Regions from separate parts of the Homo sapiens genome. Here region 2 is linked to region 1. The links come from fine-mapping of genetic effects on gene expression. A gene starts in region 1. The other region holds a variant in brackets. All regions are shown on one strand. Distances are between the middles of the regions. Region 1 holds the start of CCNL1 (cyclin L1). Region 2 overlaps LOC101928236 (a long non-coding RNA gene).

Region 1 (8,176 bases):
ACTGCCAGCTCTGGGTTGACTGTGGAGGTAGATGTCCCCAAATCTCAGGACCTCACCAAGATAATGGCAGACATCCGGGCCCAATATGATGAGCTGGCATGAAGAACCAATAGGTGCTGGACAAGTACTGGTCTTAACAGATTGAGGAGAGCAACACAGGGGTCACCACGCAGTCCGTCGAGGTTGGAGCTGCTATAACGCTCACGGAGCTGAGACATACAGTCCAGTCCTTGGAGATCAACCTGGACTCCATGAGAAATCTGAAGGCCAGCTTGGAGAACAGCCTGAGGGAGGTGGAGGCCTGCCACGCCCTGCAGATGGAGCAGCTCAACGGGATCCTGCTGCACCTGGAGTCAGAGCTGGCACAGGCCTGGGCAGAGGGACAGTGCCAGGCCCAGGAGTACGAGGCCCTGCTGAACATCAGGGTCAAGCTAGAGGCTGAGATCGCCACCTACCGCCGCCTGCTGGAAGATGGCAAGGACTTCAATCTTGGTGATGCCCTGGACAGCAGCAACTCCATGCAAACCATCCAAAAGACCACTATCTGCTGGATAGTGGATGGCAAAGTGGTATCTGAGACCAACGACACCCAAGTTCTGAGACATTAAGCCATCAGAAGCAGGGTACCCTTTGGGGAGCAGGAGGCCAATAAAAAGTTCAGAAGTCAAAAAAAAAGTTAAATTATATTACTCTCAAGTCATTACAAATATAGGTGATGATTTCATTGAAGTCCAGTGTTTTAATGAAGTACATAATCAATGAGGGTTTTTACTTTTTATTTGGAAATAAGACATGGAAGTTGCAAAGATAGACTACTCCTATGTATTCCTCCAACTTTCCCCAATGATAATATCTCACACAACCATAGATTATCAAAACCAGAAAACTGACCAGGCACAGTGGTGTGCCACTTATAGTCCCAGCTACTCAGGTGGCTGAGGTGGGAAGATCCCTTGAGTTCAGGAGTTCAAGGCCAGCCTGGGCAACACAGTGAGACCCTGGCTCTATAAACAAAAATGGAAGAAAACCAGAAAACTGGTGTCATCAATTGTGTTTAAGGAAACCGAGGCTCCTTTAAAAGTTTGTTATAAAATTATAGATATCTCATAAATATTGAGGTGGAAAGATTCCCTGGAAGCAGCCTAGTCAGAAAGTGAAGACAGTGACATCCAGATAGGTTAATACTTCTGCCAGCACCATAATTACACTCTCTTGGCTGTACATTCCAATCACTCGAAGACAGGCAAAACTGAACCACTGGCTGGGCCCACCTTAAATCAGTGACATCAACCTCTGCAGGCAAGGCTCAAGTATCAGTACATTTTAAAACAACTTTGCCCACTGAAGGTTCACTTAATCAACTGATAAGGCCGGGTGCGGTGGCTCATGCCTGTAATTCCAGCGCTTTGGATGCCTGTAATCCCAGCATTTTGGGAGGCCGAGGCGGGCGGATCACCTGAGGTCAGGAGTTCAAGACCAGCCTAGCCAACATGGCAAAACCCCGTCTCTACAAAAATACAAAAATTAGCTGGACGTGGTGGTGTGTGCCTGTAATCCCAGCTACTGGGGAGGCTGAGGTGGGAGAATCGCTTGAACCCCGGAGGCGGAGGCTGCAGTGAGCCGAGATCGCGCCACTGCACTTCAGCTTGGGCGACAGAGTGAGACTCTATCTAAAAAAAAAGAAAAAAAAAATCAACTGATAACAGGCGATTAACAGGAGAAAAGGGATACATAACACCGGGGTAAAAGCAGGAGGATGATTACCCAGTAGCTTAATGGAGTACAGAAGATTTTATATCTTTTTTTCATAGGGGAAAGGGTAGATGAGAAATGTAGACATTTATTTTGAGGAGCAGCAAATGATTATTAGGAACAATGAATGGACAGAAATTAGTAAATAATTTTCTTTTGAGTAATCTTGTGAAAAAGTCCCTCCAGGAATGGCTGCATTTCTGAGTCTTTTTGAAATAGGATACGAGATTTCAGCGAGGGGAGGAATGCGATTGATTCTTCTACAAAGAGGCTTCTCTAGTCAGGAAAGGAAATTTCAGAGAGTACCTCCCTGCACTTGGGAAAAGTGGGAGCAACAAGTCAAGGTTGGGGGACCTGCATTATGAGGCAGCTTCTAAAGCCTCTGTCTTTGGGGTATCGCTTTCTGAGCGTCAAGAGTAAAACGTGATGCATTCCTTTCCTTCCAACCTAGATTCTAGTAGTTTAGATCAGTATCATTGTTTTTACTTCAAGGTTCAGGAAACGCTGGAAATTGCTAGCTAATATCACAGGAAAAAAAACAAAAAACACGAGGTTGACCTCACCCTACCCGCGGTAGGTAACCATGTATGAATAGAGACTCCCAGGCATAATCAAATTACCTCTGTCAAGTCCTCGCCCTAAGACTATTTTTGGAAACTAGGGATTTTCCAGATTACTGAAAGCCGTGGCGGTGTCAAAGGCCGGGCAGGAGTTTCGCAAGCGGAGCTATGAAAGCAGCCACTCTCGCGGTCATTCCTATGCCTCCGCCCTACTTCCCCATACTGGCAAAAACACGCTCCCCGGGGAGCTTTCATTTGGGAACCGATAGGGTCCACAGCCCTGTGTTCTTCAAATACTGTAAAGCAGCCCTCTCCAGATTCCTTGAGGGTCACTTTATATTACACATTCGTCCACACAGGACAACAAAGTCACCACTTCCACCCGCCAAAGCGCGCTCAGGTCGGCCGCCACTTCCCTTGGTACACGCGGAACGCAAGCCGCGCCGAGGCTAAAGGAAGAGGCCGGAATGCAGGGCGAAGGGGCGCAGAGATGCTAGCCAATGCTGCCACCTCTATTTTGGGTATAAGGGATCTTGTAAAGCTCCGTTATTCGTGTGGCTATCACAAACAAGGTGGTTTCGACCGGCCTTGGCTAGAGAAGGCCTCCTCAGCCTCTGAGGATCCCAAGGTCTGTCGCAGCACCCAACACTCCCCTCGCAGGCCCAGATGCCGAGGGCGGAGGCGCGGCCTGGAGGGACTAGTTGGCGCGCGGCTGCCCGGCGTGGTGACGTCAGGGCGGAAGCGCACGCGGCGTGAAGCGGCCCAGAACCCGGCGGTCACGGGAATATCCGTCGCGCCGAGAACGCTGGTTAGTCTTGTTTCGGGTTCCGGCTGCGTTGGGCTTGCGTGCGGCTCGCTAAGACTATGGCGTCCGGGCCTCATTCGACAGCTACTGCTGCCGCAGCCGCCTCATCGGCCGCCCCAAGCGCGGGCGGCTCCAGCTCCGGGACGACGACCACGACGACGACCACGACGGGAGGGATCCTGATCGGCGATCGCCTGTACTCGGAAGTTTCACTTACCATCGACCACTCTCTGATTCCGGAGGAGAGGCTCTCGCCCACCCCATCCATGCAGGATGGGCTCGACCTGCCCAGTGAGACGGACTTACGCATCCTGGGCTGCGAGCTCATCCAGGCCGCCGGCATTCTCCTCCGGCTGCCGCAGGTCAGTGCTCCGGCCCCGGGCCGGCCGGGCGCTCCTCTCCTCTCCTCCGTCCCCTACGCCGCATCTCAGTATCACCGTGCCCCGGGAGGGTGGGGACGGTTCCTTCAGGCTTTCCCGTTCGGGGCCCAGCCGCGGCCGGGGCGTGCCGGGGCGGGGGGCTGCGGAGGCGGAGGGAGGACTTGGCAGCGGGCTGTTCGCAGCGGCGGCGGCGGCGGGAGGGGAAAGGGAAGCGATCGGCGGCACAAAATGGCGGCGGCGCCTGGAGCGGGCCCGCCTGACCCCTGCGCTTCCGTTCTCCTCTCTTGTCTGCAGGTGGCGATGGCAACGGGGCAGGTGTTGTTTCATCGTTTTTTCTACTCCAAATCTTTCGTCAAACACAGTTTCGAGGTAAGCACAGCGGAGGCGGGTAAAAGGGATTTCTTCATCCGGAAATGGGCAGAGTAGGGGTAGTGTCAGCAGCCAGCTTTTCCAGAAAGGGAGTGGTTTAGTTTAGGCCTTTGTACCTACTTCTCACTCGCCAGGAAGTGGAAACCTTTAGAATGTGGTTCAAAATCGATCACGAGCCTAAGTGCCCTCTTAACGAAAAGTACAGTTTTCAACCAAATGCAGAACTCCTGTAAGATTGAGTTTGACTCTGGAACCAAAATTAAGATGAGTTAAACAACAAAAAGTATAGTACTAGCATAGCTGGTAGACTTACGGCATAGAGATGTCTTCTCTAATTTTACTAAAGGTTGTCCCAATTGTGTTCTAAATTTTATTCTTCAAAGTGAGTTTAATCTAACAATGGCTTTTGTGGCTCATGGGTTCTTTCAGATTGTTGCTATGGCTTGTATTAATCTTGCATCAAAAATCGAAGAAGCACCTAGAAGAATAAGAGATGTGATTAATGTATTCCACCACCTCCGCCAGTTAAGAGGAAAAAGGTAAGATTGGCATTATTGAACATAGTATCTCTTGCTACTGCTGTACCGTGCACCAGTCATCAAATCAAAACATCTTTCCTTTCAAGTGAATACGGATGCAAAAGAAAACGGACTTTAATTTAGGTGTTAAAGTTCATATAGGAACACTGATACTTAAAATAATTTGAAAAAAGAAACATAATTAACCGGTTATCTAAAGTTTGTAGAGGCAGTTGCATTTATGGACAATCCTAACAGTGCTGTGAAGCCAGGCCTGTGGCTTAAGATTAAACAAGAAAGGGAGTACATTTGGCTCAAGTGTGAGTGTATTCTGTAAGTTATTTTTCCTCTCCCCTCTCTGGAAGACTGAAGGCTGGAAGTTTAAACACTGTAGTTTAAGTTAATATTGTGGCAAAGTTCTGTGTAGATTATGTTTTTCTACTCGAAGTCCCAGTTAATTCTTTATCAATTGAGGTTGGCTTTTGTTAGAGTACTTCTCAACATTGAACTACGATAAATCGAATAATACCGGATCTGAAAGGACTGCAGGATGATAAAGTTTGAAGTTTGAAGTCAAAGGGATTAAACAGGTATTTTGTTTTGGTTAGATACAGTCTCAGTGAGTGGGTTAGAAAATTAACAAGTAAGATTGATTGGGTTGCATTTAGATAGGGCCATTTATTTGATGTTGTAAGAAAATACAGAGACTGAAATAGTATCTCCTAGGTGTTGTGGTAACATAATTTTATGTGGACCTATGTGTTCCTGTGAGGCAGTACCAAAAAGTTTGTTGCAGGACTTCCTGCATCTACAGGTGACTTCCAGTACATGCTGCAGAATGATATATTTGGTGTAGAATAGTTTTTGCATTCACTCTTTAAGGAATTGTAGTGATGTTAGACAAATTGTACTGAGTTTGAAAGGAAGTTATTAAAAGGATTATAAGTTGTTCTGGGGGTTGGGTATGTTGGTTAGTGCTGTTAGTATTCTATATGAGTAGTCCTTATTGGCTGAATCTGTAAGTTGGCAGTAATGGAACTATTCAGACAAGCAAATATTAAAGCAACTTTAAGATGACTAGTCTATTCTGTGAGTCTACAGACAGTTCTTTTTTAAAAAAAGAGTATCCTAGTCAAAAAGTCTGCAACAGTTTTCCTACATACTTTTTCTCCCCCATCTTTTCTCATTCACCTTAACTGTGTCCAGGGATAGAGTACTTTTTAAATTCTAAAATATCTTTTAGTTTGTTGATGAGTCCCTGGGAATTGGGAAGATTTCAAATTGGTCTTTGGTATGGTCTGAGGTTAAATCTGTATTTAGATACCTGGCTGATTCTTCAGGATGTTTAAAGTAATGACACTAATACAAGGCTCTATCTTTAGTCAAAGGTTTCTCTTTGCTTAAAGGAAATGGTTTTCTAGTATTCTTTGAACCATTGAGCCAACTATTATGTAATCACATGATTATCTTCTGTGGAATTTTCCTGTGAGACTAGTTTACTTCGTTGATGTTAGAATAGGTCTTAACTGTAAAAACCATGGAATTTAAAATAATATAATCTCACCTGATTGTTGTGTCTGATGTAACTTTGTTTTTTGGGTCATTATTACAGAGAAACTGATTTTGTTTCAATCTTAGAAGTCTGATTATAGCAAAATTTAAAAGGAGTTGTTAATTGCATGGAAGCCTTTTTTTAAAGCAGGATGTAAAAGTGTTTCTATGCATATTACAAGTTTACTCAAGCACGTAACTTGTATATGTTATTAACTTCAACTCTTTTTTCCCTTGCAACCGACTATACAGCGACCAGCTACATTTACCAAAGCCTGGGTGATGTGGAGTGGTACATAGAGATGAAGCTGTCGTCATGGCAACAGTGAGTGAAGTATCGAAAATCCCCAAGGAGAAGCCAGTGCTCTGAGAATAGGTCACTGGAATCGGGGACTAACAGGTTGGCCACTGGTGAACCATTTAGAAAAACTCCTGTTTCTTGTTATAAGCTTTTGTCTTTGCTGTCCAAGTTATTAGAACTATAGCTTTGTATTTATTTTTGCATAGGTTAATGTCATTAGAAAGTACTATCAGTATTATACATTGGTTAGGTAAAGCATATCACTTGTCTTAATGATGCTATTTGTTTTAATCTAGTTTATTCATAACTTTAAATTGTAGTGTGACTTTGACAATTACAGTGGAGATACATTATTCATGTTGCTTGTAGGTCATTGGTCTCTTCAGCCTGGCTACACATTGAGAATTAGCAGAGGAGCTTTTTAAAAAGTACCAGTGCTTAGTCCCCAACCTGGATTGTTTGGCCTATTCCTCCTTCAGTTTTTTGTGGTTCGATAATTATCTTTTAAGTTGACAATAAACAGCTAAATTTAGAGGGGGGATTGCTTTTTCATTGTTCTAGTTTCCAAATATTTACTTTTGAGATGCAGCGTATTAAAATTTTCAAAGACTGGTTTAACCATTCTCATTAGTAAATACAATGTATTTTCAGTGTATCCATAGATAATAAAAGTTGGATAGGTAAGAATTGGAAGGGTGTTAAGTGATGTCATTTAGTCTACCACCTTTCTACAGTATAATTCTGTGGCTCTACAAGGTGGCCTTCAGTTTGTTTAAATACCTATAAAGGATGTTTCTACTTTTAAGTAGGCATTACAAATTTTTGTATATTGCTTGGCAGTATGCCTCTTTGTAAACTACCAATCTGTTATAGTCTCTTGAAGACTTGGTTCCAATATTTCTCAGTCTTTGTAACACATAAATGAAACTAACCATGTTTGGACTTTGTAATTTTTGTTGTTGTTGAGTTATATGTCAATTACATAATCATGCTAAAGGAAAATAGCTCCTCTAACAAACCATAATAATAAACTTCTAATGACCAAAGACCAGGATTTTCTAAAGCTGAAAATAATTCTCGTATAAATCAGAAAAATTGGACAATAGAAACTTAAAGCAGAGATTGAGTTAGTTTGTGTGTTGATAATGAAAATTATTTTTGAGTTTTCTCTGAATAGATGAAGACTTCTTTTTTAAAGAGATTTTCAAATGCCACCTCCTCAAACTTTATTGGCAAAGAAAGTTTACCTGATTGGGGAGGAAGAAATTCTAGCAGGCCTTAATTTAATGTGCTTGTTGCAACAGAAGGTACTAATGTATACTTTGAGACTTTGTTTACTGCTGATTGATGGAGATATATTTTTTAAATTTATGATACAAAGTAATCTCTACCAGGTAGTTGTAAATTACGTGTGCACCGTTGATTTGTGAGGTAGAACCAATTCTGAACAAAATAAAGGTATCTGGTTTTAGGTTATATACCCACAAAGTTAACTTTGAAAATTGCAGGTAATAAATAGCAGGATTAAGCAAGAAGTTAAGTATATATTGAATTATAGTAAATAATGGGTTTGGTTTTCTTAAATCTATTTTGATGTCATTGGCATTTTGACACAAAAACAAAGAAAATGGCATCATTAAGTCTGATTTGGGACTAAATAGTAGCTATAATTCAAACATATTTAGCTTCTTTAGTGTAATTGCAAGAACAAATGAATTATATCACCATTTGAAGGCAGTTCTTAAAGCAGGTTATCTTAAGAGGTATAGATAATTTTTATTAACAAATGGAGAAAAATGAGACAACTATGTTTTCATAAAATTACATTTTACTAGGGATTTTGATGATACCGTCTTCTGTCTGGATTGCAAGGGGTTAAGAGTTAAAATGGTGTGTGCAGCTGTAACACTGGAGCTATTTTATCTCTTAATGACAGTTAA
Region 2 (17,610 bases), 97 kb before region 1:
TCCCCTTCCAGTTTATTATGGAAGCTTGTTTTAGTTGACTTTTTAGTTGAACTGCAGAGGGACTGCAAGTCTTGACTCAGACACCGTGCCCTTTGTTTCCTTGTGGACCACGTACACAAATTTATGACTTATGATATTGGCTCTGATTTTTTTATAGCTATAGTTTATATTTGGAAATGGGGGTCCAAAAAAGGAGGACATAGACAAGGAGGAAAGAATGAAGGCTGATTTACTTTAGGTACTTTTTATAGTCAACAAAGTTTAATTCTGATTAAAATATTACTGTCTTTCATCTATTTAATATTCAGTTAATGAATATAATAGAATTATGATCAAATTAATAAATATTTAATATAATTTTCCATTTGAATAGGATGTTCAGTAATTATTTGTATTGTGAATTTTCAGTGGGAAACCTCTGAAGTAGCATTCCATTGCAATCAATAATGCAAAGTTACCTTCTCTTCTTTTCAAATTGGTTTTATGTATCATTAAACTCTCCTGATTCAGGATCAAGAGGAATCAAATCTTGACCTACTTCTTGGCTATTTTAGAAAATAATCATAATGACTAGCATTTTTTCAGTGCCTACTATGCAACACCTTGGATTGCCTCAAACAATCCTCAAAACAATCCTATTAGGCCACCACTGCTATTATTGCCATTTCACAGATGAGGAAACTGAGTCAAAGAAACTGATTGGATTGTCCAAGGATAAAGCTAATAAGGTGAGAAAGGGTATAACTGGGGTCAAGATCAGGCAGTGTTACACCAAAGCATGTTCTTAAATGAGTTTACTGCTTCCCATGTATACTTAAAATACAGAGTCAGTGGTAAACTGTACTCACCAGGGATCTCCATAGAAATGGAACCAATAGGATATATAAAGACATATACGAGATTTACTATGGGAATTGGCTCATGAAATTATGGAGGGTGTGAAGTTCCATGATATGCTGTGTGCAAGCTGGAGAACCAGGAAAACTGGTGGTGTAATTCAGTCTGTGTCCTAAGGCCAGAAAATTAAGGGAGTCAATGATATAACTCCCAGTCCAAGGCCAAAGGCCTGAGAACCTGGGTATGGCAGTGAGCTGGGGGGAGGGATGTAAGTCCCAGAGTCTGAAGGCCCCAAAACCAGGAGCTCTGATATCCACAGGCAGGAGAGAATGCATGTCTCAGTGCAAGAAGAAAAAGCAAATTTATCTTTCCTCCAACTTGTTATTCTATCCAGGTCCCCAATAGATTGCATGATGCCCACCCACAATGGGGAGCATGGATCTTCTTCACTCAGTCCACTAATTCAAATGCCAGCCTCTTCCAGAAACACCTCACAGACACATGCGGAAATAATGCTTTCCCAGCTGTCTGGGTACCCATTAGCCCAGTCAAGTTGACACATAAATTAACCATCACATAAACCAAACTGTCTGAATTAATTAATGAAAAGTGGTAAATTAGTTAAAAATTATAATTCATTCTCGGCCATATGCACTATATCTTTAGAGTACTCATTATAAAATGTATTTGAACATTTTAATCAGTATGAATCAAGTATCGTGTATTCTGACCAGTGCTCTTTTAATTAATAAGACTTCTGTTAACTTTTTGAATGAAAAAGAATATTTTTTGTGATACCTACTGTGTAGTCATGCTACTTTCTTCATCTGTGTGTGTTATAACATATACAGATGGACTTTTCTGTAGCTGAACATCTTTTTGAAAGGGCAGTTCAATTTAGACAGCTATTGGAAACTTAAAGAAATTTTTTTAGCATAGGTTCACACTAAAGCATGTTTAAAGTGTTTAAAATGACTACCTGAATTTTCTGTTTTTATTCAAGAAATCAAGAATAGAAATGAAGACGTAGTAATTTTCCAGATCCCTTAAGACAAAGCAGAGTTAATCTATGAGAATGTTTTTCTGAACTCAAATAATGACCTTTATACTTTCTGATTCATGGCTTTTTTAATAAGGTTTAAAGAAAAAGCAATTTTATAATTAGGTAACTTGTTTGACATGTTTATCAGGAAATAATGGTCTGACATTCCATAACTCTGACAAAACTTGCGGCTCAAATAGTGGGAAATAATTTAATATAGCATGAAGGCCACAGCAAAATACCTCTAATCTCCAGGGAAACAATAACCTACCAGTGGTCAACAATCCTGCTGAAGCTTCAGGTCCTTGTAAAAGGGCCCCTTTTAAATGAAAGAAATGTGCATTTTAAAATTAGAGCTGAGGTTGAAAGACTCTAGTGGAAGACTCTAATCTTTCACTTTTGCATTTTTAAGACCTTGATCTCCACAAACTAGCTAGGCAATAGTGTCCTTTGACTTTCTATCTATTCCTGTCTCAGTTGATTCACTGTCCATCTTTAAATTACTATGGTAACTTTTTATTTTCGTATCAATCTCTGTACTATAGACTACTTCAAAGAAATGCAATTTTATTACTGTCAGATACTTACTGTAAACCAAATTAGGCTAACAAAGTATTGTCTAGTGTGTATGTCTTCAAACTTTATCCTGTGTACCCTAAAAGAATTTTGAAAAATCTATGTAATACCTTGCAGCATTTTAAGTTGCAGCAACACTTTTATCATAAGTTTAAACATTTGCCCGGACTGTAATTTCTGTTGAATTGTAAATATTGACATTTTAAAACAAAAGGATTACATCTCTCCATTAAATGTAACCATTGGATTAAAATACCATAGCAGTTTAACACCTAACACTATTTTTAATACATAAATTAACTCTTTTTTAAATAGAAGTGTTCACATTGTTTCTCTTTTTTTTTTTAAATCATGTTTCTGTTCTACCTCTATCACAGCATTTTATCCTGAATGGCATTTCATTTTTCACTGAGTAAAACTATATGTATAAATTGAAATTTAATTGTTTAAATTCCTTGTGACCATCCGTCTCCAAGTGTTATTTTTTCTGATTTAGTTATCTTTTTAAAAAGTTATATCCTTCATGAAAATCCATAAGTATAATGCCAAGCTTAATAATTATTAAACATTAAAAATTGAAATATTATTGAAAATGTATCTCATAATGAAATAGATGAGGAGTGATTACATTGCCTTGGCTGATGGATACTTCCCTGATGTCAATAGTTGGAATTGCTTTTTTGTTTGGTGCTTCTGAGATTTGTTTACATTGGACAAAACATCATAGAAAGTATGGGATGAGTGAAGAGGATGCTTTTTCATTGCAAAGTGAAAGGAGGGTGATTGCAACAGGAGAGGTGGGCAAGGAGAATTGGCAAGATTCTCAACCACAGGTACTTTCTCTAGTAGACAAAATGTATTCATGTGAAAGACCTGAAATTACTTCAAAGAAATATCTGGCCCCTTAAAATTATTCATCTTAGCCCAGTGTGATGACTTTGGTATTGTAGAGGTCCTTAAATTTTTGCTTTAATAAAAGGCAAATGTAACATCATTAAATATTTCTTCTCTTACTGTTTGTAGACAAAGCATGCTTCCAAAGCTGCAGAGAGTTTCAAAAACAGTTTGGTCTATGCAAACACTGGAAGCCTCTCTATTCAATTAAGGTTTGGCAAAATCTTTCTCAGAGGTAGCACAAAGGAAAATTCAATTTCATGCCTCCCAAACTACCTGAAGTTATAAGTTAATAGCACTCCAAATTGTACCGTTGCACCTTGCTCTATTAATATAACGTTAATAGAAAATGAAAGAACTCTGAATTTTTCCCAAATCCCACTTTATAATAATATCCTTTAAATTAATTATCTTGTGTCAACTTATGATACTCTAACAAAGGCCCAATTGCTCACTCCTTCAGTTATTCTAATGATTCTGAGGCCTTAGCACCCAAAATAACAAAGGTCTTGAGACATAAAAAGTGAAAGGATTCTGGCCCTCTTAGAAAGTTCTCCAGTAGCCAGAGATCCTTGCCTACAGTAACAGCCAGCCCATGTTCTTTTCTTCCCATGCCTTTCAGAAAGATGACCCTGACGACTGCCCAATAGAACTCAGCAAAGTACAGAGTGTGAAGGCTGTGGCCAAGAAACGCAGGGACCGCTCTCTCCCCCGGGCTTTCGAAATCTTCACAGACAATAAAACCTATGTCTTTAAGGCCAAGGATGAGAAGAATGCAGAAGAATGGCTCCAGTGCATCAACGTGGCAGTTGCCCAAGCCAAAGAAAGGGAAAGTAGAGAAGTAACCACATATCTGTAGGGATTTATAAGTCAGCCATGACAATTATACACCACAGGCATTGTATTATCATTGCCAATGTCAAGAAAAAGAGCTAAATTTACCAAGCCATGTTGTTTTTTACTAAATACCAATGGAATTGTTGTCCTTTAAGAAGAAGGGCCTAAAATGGCAGGATTCTTAGTAAATGTCATACTCTAACAGCTTTAGTATTGACTTCAGAATATATCTGATGCCCACAAAAATAAAATAAAATAAAAGGAGCTACAGAGTATGCCCTCAGATAGTGTGGGGCCAGGAAGGGAAAAGTCACTGATAAAAGAACTTCTGTAGATATGTCATTTAAAACTGTGAGAAAACAACATGAAAAGATGCCTGAACTCTCCATCCTGAGGAAAGATTAGCACTTCTGATGAAAATCACAGTCTGTCAAAGGTATTAAAAGAAAACTTTAAAAAAAAAAACCTTTAGAAACGTTGAACTAATGTACACTGAGAAAAACCATATAACTTACTTATAGACATATAATTACATGATCCTCTCTTACTACAACTGAGGCTAACACATGGTAAAATGGTTCCCAAATCAAGCCAGTTATGTCATTAAATACTTGTCTTTCAGAATTACTTATTTAATTATTCCATTTAAGTTCATATAATATAATCTACAGTTTAGATACTTGGACATATATCCTGCCCAAGGCACTAAGTGTAATATAGGAAAAGGATAGAAAGCCATTTTCTCTATCTTCAAAATAATGTGCCATCTCCGTTAAAATTAAGACTTTAAAGTTCTATAATTTTTTCTTTGTATTCAACTTTTTAATACCTCCAAATTACAAACATCTATTTTTTTCACTACATAGATATATAATTACACTATGATAGACAGAATTCTAGAGTGATTCTCAATAATCCATGCCTTGGTATAATCCTCTCCCCCATTGAGTGTGGGTGGGACATGTAACCTGCTTCTAACCAACAGAATATGGCAAAAGTGATGGGATCATCTCTCCCATATTATGTTATGTTATATAACAAAAGTGAAGAGAAGTTGCAGATATACATAAGGTTTCTAATCAGCTGACTTTGAGTTAATCAAAGAGATCCCCTGGGTGGGCCTGACCTAATCAGACTAGTCCTTTAAAAGAGAGTGAACCAGTCAGAGACTCTCTCTCCTATTAGCCTTAAATAAGCAAGCTGCCATGAGCTCTACGGCTGCAAGGAAATAAGTTTTGTGAACAACCATGTGATCTTGGAAGAAGCATCTGAACCTCAGATAAAAGCCCAGCCCCAGCCAACGCCTTGCTTGCAGCTTTGTGAAACTCTGAGCAGAGGACCCAGCTAAATCACGTTTGGACTCCTGACCCACAGAAACTTTCAGATAATAAATGTATGCTGTTTTAAATCTAAATTGTGGTGATTTGTTATGCAGTGTTAACTAATACAAAAGCTAAGTTGGGCTACATACAAGGGATAACTTTTTCCTTGAAATTTATTGATTATGTAGTCTAGTATAGAAACCTGGAGAAAGATTATGAATGGTCAACACCTTGACCCTCCTGCTAACTTACTAGGATAGGAAATATAAAAGGGGCCATGTTTGCGAAAGGAAACAATTCCATTTTAACAAGTAAAGTTTGAGGGTATTGTGAGTCACAGAATTTATTACACATTGGAAATAGAGTTCTGGAGGTCAAAATTCAGGATCACTGGATATATAGGTAGTCACCAAAGATGCAAAATTAGATGAAATTACCCAGAGAGAATAAGAAGACAAAAGAATTAATAAGGGTTCCTTGAGACACCAGCATTTAAGTAAAGGCAGCTGGTGTATCTGATTAGTGTTGAGAGATTATGTAGACCAGGAGAAACAATGTCACAAAAGCCAAATTAATAAGGATTTTTCAGGAAAAACAGGGCAACAATTTGAAATCCTGAAGAGTAATCACTTAAGATAAAGCCTGACTTCCACAATCAGGAAGCAATTGGTGTCATTGGGAAGAACAATTCCATTTGAGTGAGGGAGTAAACATCAAATTTTAGTAGGCTGAAGTGTCAATGGGAGGTTTGGACTTTAAAGCAATAATTGGACTATTCTTTCAACAAAATGGGGCTACGATGAAGGGGCTAAGATGGAGCAAGTGTTTTCTTGCTCTTTTTAAGATGAGTAAGAATTAAGGGAAAGATGAAGGAGTTAAAAATACAGAAAGAAAGAGGAAAAAAATGACTTTGCTTGAGTAAAGTTTCCAGAAGTGATAGGAAGGGATTAAAACTCCTTTATTCTGCAGCAATTAACTGAGCAGGTGCTAAGCAACAGTTGCCATGCTTGGCCTGGAGATACAAAGATAAAAGACACAGTTTTTCTCTTCAAGAAGTTTAAAGTTTAGTGGAAGAGACATATACGTACAACAGAAATATAAGTGCTACGCAGCAAGTGCCTTGATGAAGGTATGCACAGGGTCCTGTGGAAACACAAGAGAAGACACCATTGTAAGTGACTTTAAACTCAGAGTGGACTCCCTCACTGCTTCCCAGAGGTGATAGAAAATGAGCTAGTCTTAAAGAACTAGTAGGATTGCTGTGGACAAACAAGGAGCAAATGGTCAGTAGGGTGAACCACGCTACAAATGCAAAAGAGGGAGAAGGAACATGGTCCATTTGCAAAACGTAAGCTTTTCCCTAGGGTTGAAACATAAGGGGTGTATGGAAAATGGTTCAGAGTCATGCTGAAAAGGCCTGCAGGACCACAGGATTTAGGACTTGGTTCCATGCCAAGGGTCTAAACTTTTTCCTTAACATGATGAGGCATTAATTTGTGTGGCAGCAATAAAGATAAAAAAGAAAAAAAAATCACAAATAAGATGATGAAGCACCATTAAAAGGTTTTAAGCAGATTTGCATTTAGAAAGGTAATCTTAATAGTGGTATAGAGAATGGATTATAAGAATATCAAAAATTGTAGCAGGGAGACCATTTGGGAGGTTCTTCTAAGGTAGTGAGGACCTGGACTGATGTAGTACCAAAGGAAATAGAGATAAATGAACAGGCAGGAAAAATACTGATTTAGTTAAATGGACAGAACACTGGCGGATTGGATGGAGTTGGAGTATGGGAATGGAAAGGAAAGAGTTTCTGCTGATCCCTAGGTGCTTGCTTGGGAAACTTGGTAGATGATGATAATGATGATATTCACTGAAATAGAAAATTCAGAAGCAGCATTTTGAGAGATAAGCAGATGGTAAATTTAATTTTGATGTATACATTCAGGGAACAGATAGGGGACTAACCTTGCAGACAGACAACTCCTGTGAAGTTGGGCACGAAAAGGATGAGAATGAGTATAGTTGTAAATGATTCTCTAAATATTCTTTTAAAACTTACCGCCCCATACTTAAGAGTCAGTGAATAACTCTAGCTGTTTTAGTCAATTAGGAACAATTGGTAACAGACAAACACTGACAAAGTATTAGGTGACCTTGCATTAGCTATTAAAAATTTGAATGCCAACAGTGTGCTTAAACCTTTCACAGCAGAGAGCTCGTGGTAAAACAGTGGTTATGCTGAATGTTTGGCCTCAGAAAGAAGAGAATGGCCCCCTCAGCTCAATTTGTGGGGAAAGAATTATTTTTACTACTTGCTACAAAGTCCTTGTGATTTAATTAACTGGATGCCTCTAATCTACAACATAATTCTCAGTGCCTTTGAGCCAGATCTTAAAAAAAGTAAATGTGTGAAGTGTAAATAATGAACTTTTTGGTTTCATTCCATGATGCAATAATTCCAATGCAAGTAAATTCTCCTGGGTTCAGAATCACACTAGGAATCTCAGAATCATCAGCTTCCCGCGAATATTTCTGGCACTTCCACCCTGGTTGCTGGTGAGTTTACCACAGACCGGCCTTTCCCAAAAGGGCTGCCATTTCTTCCCGATCTAAGAAGAAACCACTTTCCTAAACATGCTTAAACCTTTAAAAATGTTGGTATGAATAAAATTATAATCATGGACCGAAATTGAAGTGGCTTTCATTTTAATTTAATTTTTATTCTTTTTCCCTCCCAGATAGCATTGGAAATATAAATGTTTATGTATGAGAAGCTTATCTAGCTACTTCTTGAGAACCTGGAGTTTGGTAAAAACAAATGTTCAATACTTTTCTAATACTGAGCTTTCTAGAAAATCCTTAGCTGGTGATGTCAAGGGGCATTTACTGGGTCATCTCCAACTCACCTACTTTCCATAGGTACCCACAGACCTGTTTGTGGTGATGACTTATTCTCAGACATAAATAAGGATTACATGTTTAAGGAAGCATTACCCACTTTAGGAAACAATTGTGAGATAAGGTGAGAGAATGTGAGCTGAATTCAAAGTGCATTGCAGACAAATAAATACCATGGTTTAAATGCCCTAATAAGGATTTCCAGTTCCCAAAATCTAAATTTTTAGAAGAGAAACCAAGAAAAAAACAAACTGTCATCTTGTTTCAGAATAGCACCAGAGTATAGATCCTTTGGAACAAATCCTTCCCAAAGATGCTCCTGAAAGACAAAGGGGTTGGAAAATCCAGAAGACGTCTACCAAGGTAGGGAAAGGGGCACAGGCTCTGGGCACGTGAAGAGTCAATCCCTCACTCTATCAAAACTAGATTACCAACCTGAGACAGTTATTCATCCTTCATCCCTGGTTTGGGGATAATATTATCCACAGAGTGGAATTGATGTGAGACACACATGTCGTGCAAAAGCACAAAACCTATAACCTTAACCAGCAGAGAACCTTTAACATAATAGGTGCTTGAAAAAGACACTCCAGTTTTTATGTACCATTAAGTAACTATGATACCATGTCTTAATGATAATTACATGTTGATGTCTTCCTTTTTAGGCAAAACATTCAGTGGTTGCTTTGCAAGACCATATGGAACTGTGGTCACTTCAATGTTGGCTCTTTCGTTCACTAATATCACACTTCATTCCACTCCTCTGCTTCTGTGCTTTTCTGTGTACATGATAACTTTTTGTTTCAAAGTCAAACCAAATTGTAACCTGTTTAAGACATAGTAAACAGCAATTAGCCCGTGTGCTGTCAACTATCCACATATCTGAATGGATGTGACAACACAAAGAGCTAAGATAG[T/C]ATTTGCACATCAATAGGCAACAACAGAAACCCCATCACAGCCATTCCCACTGCATAGTGATTGTAAAACATGTACTAATTTCAGAGATATTTAAATGTGGGGGAAGAAAATGTAAAGCAGTTAGCAGAAGGAAGTATTAAGAGTTCCACACAGGTTTGTTTCACAGTAATCAAAACTGTATGTTAACATTTTTGTGAACAGTAGAGCATATTGCAAATGTAACAAATTTTAAAACATAATGATTAAAATGCCCCCAGTGCGCCCATCCTCAAAGGTGTGAGGTCAGCTTTGCCTATAGTTGCTTACCCTCTCTTTTGACAGGACTAAGGATGGCTGATGTCCACATACAAGCCATGTTTATGGTCTCTATATCCCCCTGCCTGTGCTCTCCTTTGTCCAAGTTTCCTTTCCTGAAAGGGAAGCTGGGTAAAGAATGGGCCAAGATAGCAGAGATGGAGGCAGGGGTGCACACGGTGTGTCTTTTTATTTTTTCACTTTCATTTTAAGTTCAGGGGTACAAGTACAGGTTCATTACATAGGTAAACTTGTGTCATCGGGGATTTGTAGTATAGATTATTTCATCATCCAGGTATTAAGCCTAGTACCCACTGGTTATTTTTCCTGATCCTCTCCTTCCTTCCACCCTCAACTCCCCGAAAGGCCCCAGTGTGTGTTGTTCCCCTCTATGTGTCCATGTCTTCTTATCATTTAGCTCCCACTTATAAAAGAGAACATGCAGTATTTGGTTTTCTGTTCCTGCAAAGCACATGATCTTGTTCCTTTTTGTGGCTGCATGATATTCCATGAACCACATTTTCTTTATCCAGTCTATCATTGCCCAAATGATGGGCATTTAGATTGATTCCATGACTTTGCTATTGTGAATAGTGCTGCAATGAACATACATGTGCATGCATCTTTGTAATAGAATGATTTATATTCCTCTGGGTATATACCCAGTAATGGGATTGCTGGGTCAAATGGTATTTCTGCCTCTAAGTCTTTGAGGAGTCATTGCACTGTCTTCCACAATGGTTGAACTAATTTACATTCCCATCAACAGTGTAAAAGTGTGCCTTTTTCTCCACAACCTCACCAGCATCTGTTGTTTTTTGACTTTTTAATAATAGCCACTCTGACTGGCGTGAGATGGTATCTCATTGTGGTTTTGAATTGCATTTCTCTAATGATCAATGATACTGAGCTTTATTTCATGAGTGTTGGCCACATGTATGTCTTCTTTTGAGAAGTGTCTGTTTATGTCCTTTACCCACTTTTTTATGAGGTTGTTTGTTTTTTGCTTGTAAATTTGTTTAAGTTCCTTATAGATGCTGGATATTAGACCTTTGTTGGGTGCGTAGTTTGCAAAAATTTTCTCCCATTCAGTAGGTTGTCTGTTTACTCTGTTGTTAGTTTCTTTTCCCATGCAGAAGCTCTTTAGTATAATTAGATCCCATTTGTCAATTTTTGATTTTGTTGCAATTGCTTTTAGCATCTTCATCATGAAATCTTTGCCTGTGCCTATGTCCTAAATGATAGTGCCTAGAAAACCCCATAGTCTCATCCCAATAGATTCTTAAGCTGACAAACACCTTCAGCAAAGTATCAGGATACAAAATCAATGTGCAAAAATTACTAGCATTCAACAGTCAAGCCAAGAGCCAAATCAGGAACAAACTCCCATTCACAATTGCCACAAAAAGAATAAAATACCTAGGAATACAGCTAGCTAGGGAGATAAAAGATCTCTACAAGGAGAGCTACAAACCACTGTTCAAAGAAACCAGAAATGACACAAACAAATGGAAAAACATTCCATGCTCATGGATAGGAAAAATCAATATCATGAAAATGGCCATACTGCCCAAAGCAATTTGTAGATTCAATGCTATTCCTATTAAACTGCTGCTGACATTCTCGCAACTAAAGAAAACTATTTTAAAATTCATATGTAACCAAAAAAGATTTTAAATAGCCAAGGCAATCCTAAGCAAAAAGAACAAAGCTGGCAGCATCATGCTACCTGACTTCAAACTATACTACAGGGATACAGTAACCAAAACAGTATGATAGTTGTACAAAAACAGACACATAGACCAACAGAGCCAAATAGAGAACCCAGAAATAAGACCGCACGCCTACAACTATCTGATCTTCAACTAACCTGACAAAAACAAGCAATGGACAAAGGATTCCCTATTCAATAAATTGTGCTGGGATAACTGGCTAGCCACATGCAGAAAATTGAAACTGGACCCCTTCCTTACCCCATATACAACAATTAACCAAAGATGGATTAAAGATTTAAATATAAAACCCAAAACCATAAAAATATGATATGTCTTTTACCCACTATCACAGATTGGGGACCCTAGAGGTGAACTTAGAATGGTGTCTGAGGAGGAATTCCAGATCAAGTAGGAGGAGCATTTTCAGATGACACCTTCAAAGTCAACCATACCAAAGACAGGAGTAGAAAGGCAAGGCCTAGAGTCAAGTCGGAAGTTGGAGAAGCAGGGAAGAGCAGAGAAAGGCACAGAGCAGAGTGAGTGGAATGGGCAGAGGGTTGCACGAACTTCAGAAGAGCAAGACCACCCTTATGGCTTGATTTTTACAGGTACTTGCCTAGGCGAAGTGGCGGCGGGGGGGCGGGGGGTTCTGTTAAATGTTCTTTGATGAAACAGGTACACCTCCTCATAAATGTCCTTCTAGTCCCTGGTTATGCAAGGCCCTATAGCCACGTGCTAAGCACAACAGGCAACCAGCTCTGATGATAACCTTAGCTCCCGGGTCCCGCCATGAGAACCCCAGCCTTGGCAGAGGACATTCCACAAGAACATTCTTCTCATGCCCCTTGCCCCTGCACCCCAGTACTATTGAATTTGTCTGCTTCAAAGAAAAACTTTCTGAGAGCAGGGGGGATGGAAATCTTTGAACTTTCTATAAAATGATAATCAGATGCATTGTGTTTACATAGCTTATTTATGACTTTATGGACAAATCTTTGAAAATCTTACATCAAATTTAAAAATGCATTTTTTCTGTCTTTCAAGCAATAAAAGGATTAGAATTCATTTTGGTACTGAGAATCTAGAAGAGTTATAAAATTTTCAAATAATGTAAAAATGTAAAGTATTCAAACACATGGTAGGCTAATGCATGCCTAGGAATAACAGTGCTCCATGAGACCACACTGGAAATTAAGGGGGAGTGGGTGCTAATAAAAGTAAATTCTAATTTTTCCATTTTTGAATTATTCTAGAATTATTCTTTGCCTTGTTTTATTTTTAACTACCATTTCACTAACATTAAGTAGAATATCTATAAGACACACACACACATATATATAAACACACATTTACTATCACACAGGTATTATGACAACAGAACTATTGTTTTCACATGTGCTTTGTAGAAATCAATCCTATTACTTCATTATCTTATATTCTATTTATATCTGTCCTCTCTCTCTCTCTCTCTCTCTCTCTCTCTCTCTCTCTCTCTCTCTCTCTCTCCCTCTCCCCCTCTCCTCTCTCTCTCTCTCTGCTGGCACTTCATGTAATCAGAAGAAACTCTTATGTGTGTTCCACTATTCTTAACGGAGATCCACTTCTATACACCAGATTTCCTTTGGGAGTGTTCTGTTCCCTCTTAATTCAGAGCTATTGCTATATGAGGAAATAGTCTAAATGTCATTTCTCTTAAGAGAGAGAAACAATGATTCTGTTTGCCAAACTAGCTCATAAACACAAAAATCAGAAGGTCCATTTTTAAAATTTAGCCAAAACCACAGTTTGGCAATGCCTGTTTTGGAAAATTAACCATAATACTAAGGGTATGTGTTGATTTGAGAACATTTTCATCACGACTCCCCCAAACTCTTCATGGAGGGATATCATGTAATTTTCCACATAAACAACTCTTACCTATATATTCATGTTTTTGTTATCACTATAATACTGTCATCTCCAGAAATCCTGCAGTTGTACCATCCTCAGGTAAATACAAATCAAATTCCACTGTAGCCAATAGTGTCACAGTAAGGTTCCAATGTAACGAAGCCACTAGCAGAATGTGAGGCAGCCAAATAAACTAGGCCAAGTTCTTCTAAGCAAGGAGATTTGGCATTTATCATTCAGTTAACAGTATCACAGGCTATTGGAGTTGGAAGAATCTTAACACTTGCCAGGCCAAACCTCTCCACCCCATGGAGAAGTCCCTTTCTTGTCATCATTGGCAGGTGGCATTCCCAACCGCGCAAACCCTTCTAGGGATAGAGAACTCATTAATTTATCATCAGTTCACATCTTTTTAAAATAAATTTTTTCTGTTTATGAAAACGTTTATTGCAGAAAATACCAAAAACTACTAAAATTATAAAAATTATTCATAATCGTCTGATCATTCAGAACCCAACAATATAGAAATGTTCAAATATAATTCCCATTAGGTTATTCATACCATATAATTATTTTCTGAAAAATTCTGCCGTTCCATCATTTCTAACCTTTAGTCCAGGTTCTCCCTCCTGCAGCCAGACATAATGTCTGCTCCCTCTTCCCCAAGACAACCTTTTACATAGTTTGATTCAAACATTCATTCAACAAATACTTATTAGCCAGGCATGGTGGCACATGCCTGTAGTCCTAGCTACTCAGGAGGCTGAGGTAGGAAGATCACTTCAGCCCAGTAGTTCAAGGATATAGTGCAGTATGATTGTGCCTGTGAATAACCACTGCACTCCAGCCTGGGCAACATAGCAAGAGAAAGAAGGAAGGAAAGAAGGAAGGAAGGAAGGGAGGGAGGGAGGGAGGGAGGGACGGAGGGAAGGGAAGAAAGGAGAAAAAGAGAGAGAAAGAAAGAGAGAAGGAAAGAAAGAAAGGAAAGGAAAGAAAGAGAAAGAAAAGAAAGAAGGAAAGAAGAAAGGAAAGAAAGAAAGAAAGAAGAGAAAGAAAGAGAAAGAAAGAAAGAAGAAAGAAAGAGAGAGAAGGAAGGAAGGAAGGAAAGGAGAGACCATTTACTGAGCATCCAACATATACTAGGGCATGGGGACTCAAAAATGATAAATAAATTGTCCATGCCTTTAACAAACTCAGTAAATAAATGTTATGATCTGAATGTTTGTGACCCCCCTTCCCAAATTTATATGTTAAAACCATTAGGTAGTAGTATATGTCAATACCAATGTGGTGGTATTAAGAAGTGGGGCCTCTAGGAGGTGATTAGATAATGAGGGTTCTGCCCTCATGAATGGGATTAGTGCCCTTATAAAAGAGGCCAAAAGGAGCTTGTTTGTCCTTCCCAACGTGAAGACACAGCTAGAAGGCGCCAGCTCTGAGGAACAAGCCCTCACCAGACAGCAAATCTACCAGCACCCTGATGTTGGACTTCTCGGCCTCCAGAACTGTGAGAAATAAATTTCTGTTGTTTATAAGTTACCCAATCTAAGACAGTTTGTTATTGCAGCCCAAATGGACCAACACAATAAGTATATTTTATTTAATAAGTAAATCCATACATAAAACATCTCCTATGTGCAGGACCTGTGCTGGGCATTAGAAATGCTGAGGTGACCAAGATGTCTCAAACTTTGTGGGATACGTATCCTAGTAGAAGAGAAAAATGTTAAAGTATTATCTTAATTATGAAATTGCCATGCGACCTATCCTACAAAGAAGCACAACTGATATGAGATTGTGAAAGGAGAGGTCTGATCTAATTAGGAAGTTAGGGACAGCTTCCTGGACAAAGAGACATATGCCTGAGATCTGAAAGATGAACAGGAAATTACTAGTCAAAGGGAGAGGTAGAAGAAAAGCAGACCAGGAAGAACTGAATGTGAGAAGACCTTGGAGAGAAAAGGCATGTAGCACATTAGAGGAACCAAAACAGGCTAGTGTGGTGGATGAGAGTGGTGAGGCTGGGAGGTGGGCAAGTCATGAAGGCTGTGGGAGAGCTACTGTTGGGTTTAAAACAGGGATGGTATGATTAGATCTGCAATTCCGTAAGATGGTTCTACCTGCTGTGTAGAGAATGGTTTGCTGAGAAAGCAATAATAGAAACTGAGAGAAAAATAGAAGGCTATTACAATAGTCCAGGTGAGAGGTATAACGAAAGCTTGAAAGAAAGTAGCAGCACTGGAAATGGAGAGAAATAGAGGGTTAGAGAGAGACTTTAGAAATGCAAATTGCAGGACTTGGTGATTGACGGGAATTGTCTCCAGAATCCCGGCACCCGTGGGTTGGCGGTAGCTCCATTCATGATAAAAGGAGCATTCAAAAGGGATCAGGTTTGAGGGACATCTTGCCCATGAAAGAAACAGATGTGTGGAGATCACAACACTGTGATGTGGGGGCATGATGGAGACAGAGGAGGGGGCTGCTGGCTCTGCCTGGGGAGTCAACTAAACCTCCACTGAAGAGTTGATGATATGCTGGATGTTGAAGGAAGAATATAATTTTCTTATATTTTAGACCTCGCCTTTCACACTCTCACAGTCAAAAAAGAGAAATGACATATGCCAAGACTCAGGATCACACTTAAGATGAGACAACATAAATGGGCAAGGATGAGAACAAGAGTCACTTAACTTTAATTACTTATTTTATTGGTGTTTTTGTTCCAAATTCTTGTAGAAATATATACTAGATTTTTTAAAGTAAGTATGGTGGGCACTGATGCATCACCAACATCCCTCACTGAAGGACCTGGTGCCCCAGCTGCTGGGACTGCTGTTGGCAGACAGCCTTCAGCTGCCATTCCCCTCAAGGACTGCCTCCTGGCCAAGGTCATGCCTGGGGCACCTGACATCTAGTGAACAGTTAATGGGAGAGTGTAAAGACCTGGACATTCAGGCCCAAGTTGAGACAACTCTGAGGGACCATTCTACCTGCAGAGCTCTCCACATGGTCAGTTGAGACTATCACTGGGGCGACACTGAAGCTCAGTTTCTCCACCTGCCCCTTACTGATTCCTCTCCACTCCCTTCTGCAGGTGTTGGTCCCCAAGGTGCTCCTTAATAGGCATCCTGCGCCTTAAACACTGCCTCAGAGTCTGCTTCCCAGGAAGTCCAAACAGATTGAGAGTAAGTAAAGACATAAAGGCAAAAGGAAAACAAAGTGGGAAGAAGAATAGTCACTGGGATAAGGTAAGTAGATGAAACTCGATCCCAGCAAAAGACAGCGTTCAGAGTTGACACCATGCTTTCATGCAGCCAGTTAAGGGAGGCATTCAATCAGATTCATGAGTCAGAGTTTCCCCAGGCTAAAAATAAACCAGTTGCCCAGAGGAAGAAAAGCTCTCTCAACAATGAGACCCAAGAATTTTTTTCCTATCGGCCTTACAAAGAGAACACTGTAATATAGTAACAACAGCTTCAATATCTCTCCATAAGTGCAACAGCATGTTTCAGAAGGATATGTAAGGGTGCAAACCCTAGTTACAAATTCAAACATACAAATAATATAATTTTCTTTATTTCCTTATGTTTTAATTAATTTATTGCTTGAGTGCTGGATCCCATTTCACTTGAGAGCAAAAAAAGCAGTGTTCATTGATTCAGGATAAACTCAGTCAAACTCAGAATATTCTCCATTTATTCAGGTTTTTTCTAGTTTCTCTTCTCAACAAGTATTCTTCCAAATGTATTATTTATGCCACAAGATTCATAATCTAGTTCTTCAGAGTTATGAATTTTTTTATTTTTTTATTTTATTTCGTTTTATTTTTAGAGAGACGGGGTCTTACTCTGTTGCCCAGGCTGGAGTGAAGTGGCACAATTCTAACTAACTGCAGCCTCAAACTTCTGGCCTCAAGCAACCCTCCCACCTTGGCCTCCCAAAGTGCTGGGATTACAAATGTAAGCCACCATGCCCAGCCAGAGTTATGAATTTTTTAACCTCGAAATTTTGACTTCCATTAGCCAGACACAATGGCACTTGCCTATAGTTCCAGCTACTCAGGAGGCTGAGGCGGGAAGATCACTTTAGCCCAGGAATTTGAGGTTGCAGTAAGCAATGACTGTACCACTGCACCATAGCCTGGGTGACAGAACAGAACCCTGTCTCTAAAAATAAAAGTCAAAAAATTTTAATCCTGACCTTTGAGACTTAATCTTACTTTTCTCAAAGTATTAACAGGTAAGTTTCAGAATAGATTTTTGAAACTTACAGTTTACTGTTACTTCTGATTTCTTTTCAACATCCTTTTTCTGAGGCAATGGATGCCTTCTGCCTAATTTGAAGGGGTAGAAAGGCCAGGGGATGGGCCAAAGGGCACTGCAGA

What was found.
Region 2: its variant is fine-mapped to the expression of CCNL1 in whole blood (INTERVAL, PIP 0.94).

What each region holds. Positions count from the first base shown.
Region 1 is chr3:157,155,095-157,163,270 of GRCh38, reverse strand. CCNL1 (cyclin L1) reads left to right here and starts at 3,124. Exons shown (of 11, transcript NM_020307.4): 1 at 3,124-3,479; 2 at 3,792-3,866; 3 at 4,296-4,405. The coding sequence starts at 3,177. It also overlaps the pseudogene KRT18P34. RefSeq lists enhancers at 2,263-2,322, 2,343-2,392, 2,480-3,209, 3,843-3,912 and a silencer at 3,493-3,702.
Region 2 is chr3:157,247,732-157,265,341 of GRCh38, reverse strand. The region is part of intron 3 of LOC101928236 (a long non-coding RNA gene); the gene reads right to left. VEPH1 (ventricular zone expressed PH domain containing 1) reads left to right here. Exons shown (of 14, transcript NM_001167912.2): 14 at 3,972-5,600. The coding sequence ends at 4,208. LOC105374179 (a long non-coding RNA gene) reads left to right here and starts at 14,292. Exons shown (of 3, transcript XR_007096142.1): 1 at 14,292-14,733; 2 at 16,321-16,411. RefSeq lists enhancers at 9,074-9,605, 12,244-17,610. The variant T/C (reference allele first, on the strand shown) is at 9,327.